Homo sapiens: one gene and its partner. The protein of the gene in region 1 purifies or fractionates together with the protein of each later gene. This does not show direct contact. Each region holds a gene or a part of one and is shown on either strand. Other genes may lie near its edges.

Region 1 (3,839 bases):
CCTTTTTTTTTGAGACAGGGTCTCGCTCTGACATCCAGGCTGGAGTGCAGTGGAGCAAGCACAGCTCAGTGCAGCCTCAACCTCCCAGGCTCAAGCAATCCTCCCACCTCAGCCTTTCAAGTAGCTAGGACTACAGTCGTGAGTCATGAGGCCCAGCTAATTTTTTACATTTTTTTAGAGATGAGGTCTCCCTGTGTTCCCCAGGCTGGTCTTGAATTCCTGGGCTCAAGTGATCCTGTAGCCTTGGCCTCTCAAAGCACTGGGATTAGCCATGCATAAGCATGAGCCGCTGTGCCTGGCCTGACATTATTCTTATAAATGAGGAATTTAAAAATTCATATAAGAGAAGCATCTTGTAAAGATACAATTTTTTTTTTTTTTTTTTTTGGAGATGGAGCCTCTCACTGTCGCCCGGGCTAGAGTGCAGTGGCGAGATCTCAGCTCACTGCAACCTCCACCTCCCAAGTTCAAGCGATTCTCCTGCCTCAGCCTCCCAAGCAGCTGGGATTACACGTGCCTGCCACCACGCCCGGCTAATTTTTTGTACTTTTTGTAGAGACGGGGTTTCACTATGTTGGCCAGGCTGGTCTCAAACTTCTGACTTCGTGATCCACCCGCCTCGGCCTCCTGGGATTACAGGCATGAGCCACCACGCCTGGCCCAAAAAATGTTATTTAACTGATCTGAAACTTAAACATGTTTGTTTAACACCAACATATGTGATTCTGAACCACGCATACTATGCTGCTTATTCACAATAGCAACGACATGGAATCAACCTAAATGCCCATCAACAGTAGCCTGGATAAGGAAAATGTGGTGCATATACACCATGGACTACTGTGCAGCCATAAAAATAAACAAGATCATGTCCTTTGCAGGAACATGGATGGAGCTAGAGGCCATTATCCTTAGCAAACTAACACAGGAACAGAAAACCAAATACTGCATGTTCTCACTTATAAATGGGAGCTAAATAATGAGAACACATGGACACATAGAGGGGAAGAGCAGATTCTGGGGCCTTCTAGAGGGTGGAGGGTGGGAGGAGGGAGAGGATCAGGGAAAATAGCTAATGAGTACTAGGCTTAGTACCTGGGTGACGAAATAATCTGTACAACAAACCCCCATGACACGAGTTTACCTGTTTACCTATGTAACCAGTACATGTACCCTTGAACTTAAAAATTAAAAAAAAAAAATTCATTTGTTAAGGTTTTAAATTTTATAGTATTAAGTTTATTATTTTGATTTTGGTTTTTGATTTTGATACTTTATGCTATATGGTCCTATTTACATGTTGATCTTTGTGACAGGTATTTTAACAATGGACTTAAAGAGCCTGTGGATCCTAATATGAGAAATTATAAGTACAGTAGGGGTCACCTCTGGGATGTGTGACATCAGTTGGTAACCTCAAAGTGAAACTGGAGTTTAGGGTGAAATAGGGCATAGAGTGGTGGGAAGTTGACCAAATTGTAGCCCTTCCTTTTGATTCAGTGTATTTAAGGATCCTTGTCAGAATGGAGTCCTTTTGGCTATAAGGAGAAGATCCAGACCTGGGACATGACTAATTAGAATCACAGTGTCTTCATTTTTGAAAACTTTTCCTTCCCCATTTGAAACTAGACCATTTTATAATTAGTAATTGGTACGTTAATAGTGCAAAAGATATTCAAACTGCACAGTATTTTTTGGTATTTTTTATTATTTCATGTACAAAATTCAGAAGGTACAGAAGGGTATACACTAAGGGTCTTTTTCCCCAGAGACAGCCACTGGTACCAATTTTCTTTGTTACCATCTATTTTCTTCCAGATATAATTTACACACACATGCATTCTTTTTAGCAGTCCCATATAAAGGCAGTTGCTATACACACGGTACTGAGCCTTGAGGTTTTTCACTTAACAGTATATCATGGAGATTATTTCATGTCTGTATATTGTGAATTTCCTTATTCATTTTTATAGCTGCACAGTACTCTGTTATAAAGGTATACCATAATTTATTTAGCCAAACCTAAATAAATCTAACTTACTTACATTGTTTCAGTCTTACTTGTAAGAACAGTGCTACAGGGAATAATAGGCAAGTCATTTTGTACATAAAGATGTGCATTTGGTATCTGTGCAGGATAAATTGTTAAATAAGGGGTTGCTGTGTCAGTTTGCGCATTTATAACTTTGACAGCAGGTGCTGAATATCCCCCCATAAAGGCTGTATGCTCCCACTAACAATATAGGAGAGTTTATATTAGCAAATTGCTCAATCTTGTTGAAGCTTTAACTTTCATTTCCCTTCTTATCAGTGAGGTTGAGCATAGTTTCATGTGCTAGGAACTCATTTGTATTTTCTTTCCCAATACACTTTTTAAATTCTGGGTTTGGTATAACTACTTAAGGTTTAACTTTTTTTTTTTTTTTTTTTTTTTTGAGACGGAGCCTCCCTCTGTCATCCAGGCTGGAGTACGGTGGCACGATCTCGGCTCACTGCAATCTCCACCTCCCGGGTTCAAGCGATTCTCCTGCCTCAGCCTCCTGAGTAGCTGGGATTACAAGCACACGCTAATTTTTGTATTTTTAGTAGAGACAAGGTTTCACCATGCTGGTCAGGCTGTTCTCGAACTCCTGACCTCGTGGCCTGTCCGCCTTGGCCTCCCAAAGTGCTGGGATTACAGGCGTGAGCCACCGCGCCCAGCCAGGTTTAACATTTTTGAAGCTGTTCTCTGAAGATACTTATGGCAAGACTAGACATAATATAGAAGTTAATATTACAAGCTCTGGAGTCTCAGGTTTATTTCTTGGCTTTGCCGCTTGTAACACCTTAGGCAACTTACATGTGTTAAGTCAGATAAAGCATATGAAAGCACAGTGCCTAGCACATAAGAGCACAAGAATGTTAGCTATTATTAGTGTGCCTGGTGCGTGCTAATAATAACTGACATTATTAGCTATTATATGTTAGTTAACTATGGTAACTCTAGTTATTATATATAGTTAACTTTGTTCCATAAATGCTTTATTTGTAGTATAATTATAATTATGTAAAAATACTAATTTTTTATTAGCAATAAAAATGAAGTATGCCAAAATATTAATTGTAATTAATACCAGTTAAGTAACTGGTGCCAGGAGAATTTTGAGTAATTTGTGTTAATTATTTTTAATGTCTAATTTTTTTGTAATGGAAATATGTTTTATAATAGAAAAATATGGTAGACATTGTTGTGAAATGATTTTTGTTAAATACACCTCCCCTCTTTTTTCATTACAGACAGAGAGTGCATGGGCTGAAGAATACTCTGAAAAGAAGAAAGGGTCTCACAAGCGCTCAGCATCTTGGGGCAGTACAGATCAACTTAAGGAGGTCAGAAAAATGGTTCTAAGATAGTGGGTGTGGAAATATGATCCTTTTGTTGGCTATTTCCTTGATATTATGGGCAGCAAGGATTTGTCGTTTTCCATTGATTTCTTTTTTCTTTTTGGCTTCTGAAATAACAAAAACAATTATTGTGTTGATTTAATAAAGATTTCAATAGGGATATTTATATATCACTTACCTGATTATGTATGTTTGTCTTTTTTTAGGAGAATTCATACCTGTCTATTAACATCAGATTTAAAAATTGTAACAATACAACAAATTCACATTTATTCTTTTTTTTTTTTTTTTGGGGTGTGCATGTGTGTGTGTGAGACGGAGTCTCGCTCTGTTGCCCAGGCTGGAGTGCAGTGGTGCGATCTTGGCTCACTGCAGGCTCTGCCTCCCAGGCTCAAGCAATTCTCGTGCCTCAGCCTCCCAAGTACCTGGGACTGCAGGTGTATGCCATCATGGCC
Region 2 (2,700 bases), on another chromosome or scaffold:
TTACATTGAACAGAAATAGGCAAATGTCTCATATTGCAGGTGGCTTAAAAAAAACAATGTATTCTGTTCTAAATATGCTTATGATTGTCACTGAGTAAAAATCTTGTTATTTACCAGTTTATACATAGAACATTATAGGAGATAGTCTTTTCATTTAGGAGAAGGTCACCATCATTAATTTTACAACTGATGATTTTATAATAGGTCCTTCTGGTTCTTCATGGTCATTATTGAAGTATAATGCATTGAAGATATGGCCTGTACAAAGGCAGAACAGGGATGTTAATTAGAATTCTGACAAGCCTACTCCAATAAAATGATGAGATTATTTGTAATTGATGTCACAATCAATTACCATTTAGTTCATCATGAGCATTCTAATAGGTTTGGCTTTGGTATTGGCCCCAGGATGTTGCTGAGTGAGTGGCTGCCCTGCTTATACTGTTATTGAGACACAAGGGCGCATTTTCAGTCAGCATCCTAATGACCTCTTTTGAAGTCTATTAAATTAATGACCCTGTCACACTATTTTGATCTCTTATAACCTCAGTTTGGGGTTTGTATAACAAATTAATATTTGGGAACCATATGACAAAAAAAGATGATAGGTTTTTAAAAAAGTTGAAACCTTTGATATTTAGTAAAAGTTATTGTGCAAGAAATAAAAGCAAAAATGCAATATTAGGATTTGTATCTATTCTATAAAAGAGAGCCTTAGGACATTTCTCCCTACCTCTGAATGACATGCTTTTTAATTATAGTACCCAAATTAGGTTTTATCTTTAAGAGGCTGCATTTCTTCTCTAATTCTAGGTGCCAATGGGTCATGTTTGGTTAGAAGGTGACAATCTACAGAATTCTACAGATTCCAGGTGCTATGGACCTATTCCATATGGACTAATAAGAGGACGAATCTTCTTTAAGGTACCATTTTCTGCTTAAAATGTAAGGTTTATTTTCTGAGCTAGAAAAAGTTTCTCTCAAAATGATCTCTGAAATCTTCAAGCTGTCAGTGTACTTAACTGTTGCACCGAATATATTTTTTGAACCTGTTGGCCTTAACTTAATAGCCATATGCAAACCTATTCCCCCATTGCCCCTGCTCCCATAGAGATAATAATAAAATCCAAACTACCTTAGCTATAGCCTAAGAAAACTTTAATTTGAATTTCCAAAAGTTCAGTTCTCTCTTGTACAACTCTTAAAACCATGTTCACATCCTGCCCAGGGCATATTTTAATAAGCATGTGCAGAAGAACAGTCTAGATTCAAACTACCTGTAAAGTAGGGATACCCCAGTTGAGTACTGTGAGTCACAGACTTATTGTGAATGTATGATTATTAGGGAAGATTGTTTTCACTGGCCCCTCCTTTTTATCACAATCAGTGAGGAGAAAAACATTCATGAATACATGGAGCTGTTGGATAATTTACAGGATTCTTTACATTTAAAACAGATGCCATATTCAAGTACTTAAACCTAAGCCCCTTTGGTTGAAAGTACACAGTTAACTCTTACTTGCAAGTAGTAAAAGAAAACACAGACCATATATTCATACATATTTATTCACACACCACACACATATAATTTCATGTACATTGTTTGAATGTCCCAAACTTTGGAGTTTAAACATATATACACATAAGTTTATTTTCTCAAGTCTTACTTTGATGTAGAAAATTTTATTCTTGATTGATGAGTAAGGAGAAAGTGTTTATCTGGCATAGAGAAAAGGGACAGATAGCAAAAGGGAATATGATGATACTATAACATTACTTTCACTAATTGTCTTCAACCTCATTTTGATTTTACAGATTTGGCCTCTGAGTGATTTTGGATTTTTACGTGCCAGCCCTAATGGCCACAGATTTTCTGATGATTAGTAAGCATTTATTCTTTTGACTTGATTATTGTCTCCTTTTCATGTGAATTTATTACTCCCGTTGAAACCGTGTACTTACCAATAAACTATTTGCTATTCAGTTTTAGTTGTTTTTAATTGTTAAATGTAAAGAATATTCAACACACATTCTGCCAAGTTCTGTTAGTTCAAAATATATGGATAAAAATGTAACCCAAAAAAGTCATCTAAATTTTATGATACAAAAATATTGTGGGAGGGGGAACCTGGATGACTACCTCACTTTTGAATTCTTGTTCTTATAGGTATAATGAAACTAATCTATTCTTCTTAAATATACCTCATACTTTAGCAGCTACATTTACAAGTCAGAGTAGTAACTATTCGTATTTATAAGTTCAACCTGACAATGCCAGGTTTGATAAAAAGCTGCTAGTCTACATGCTCAGCCCACTCATTTGAAATTAAGTAAAAATGTTTCTAAAGGATCCCTTAAAGTTCTTTAAATGAGTTCTGACTTTTACTGTACACAAAATATTAAATACATAGAAAAATGCATCTTTAAGGCATATGCCATCTGTAGTTGGCTATAGTCAATAATACTTTATAAAAGTTCATTTCAGCATAGCAGCAGTGCAATGGCCCTGTCTTCATAAATACAGGCATTAATACTATATCTTTTTTTATTTATTTTATTTTATTTTTTTTGAGACAGAGTCTTGCTCTCTGTAGCCCAGGCTGCAGTGCAGTGGCACAACCTCGGCTCACTCTGCCTCCTGGGTTCAAGTGATTCTTGTGCCTCAGCCTCCCGAGTAGCTGGGACCACAGGCAGACACCA

Evidence for each region.
Region 2: the proteins of FAM117B (region 1) and IMMP1L purify together in Homo sapiens (affinity purification with mass spectrometry; 2 studies listed by BioGRID and IntAct, with this or other methods). This does not show direct contact.

The regions. Positions count from the first base shown.
Region 1 is NC_000002.12:202,721,641-202,725,479, forward strand, and holds part of FAM117B (protein FAM117B), read left to right. Parts: intron 1-3,276; coding exon 3,277-3,369; intron 3,370-3,839.
Region 2 is NC_000011.10:31,431,684-31,434,383, reverse strand, and holds the end of IMMP1L (mitochondrial inner membrane protease subunit 1), read left to right. Parts: intron 1-813; coding exon 814-924; intron 925-1,548; exon of another isoform or gene 1,549-1,815; coding exon 1,816-1,884; 3' UTR 1,885-1,983; downstream 1,984-2,700. UniProt on the Homo sapiens protein: Catalyzes the removal of transit peptides required for the targeting of proteins from the mitochondrial matrix, across the inner membrane, into the inter-membrane space. Known to process the nuclear encoded protein DIABLO.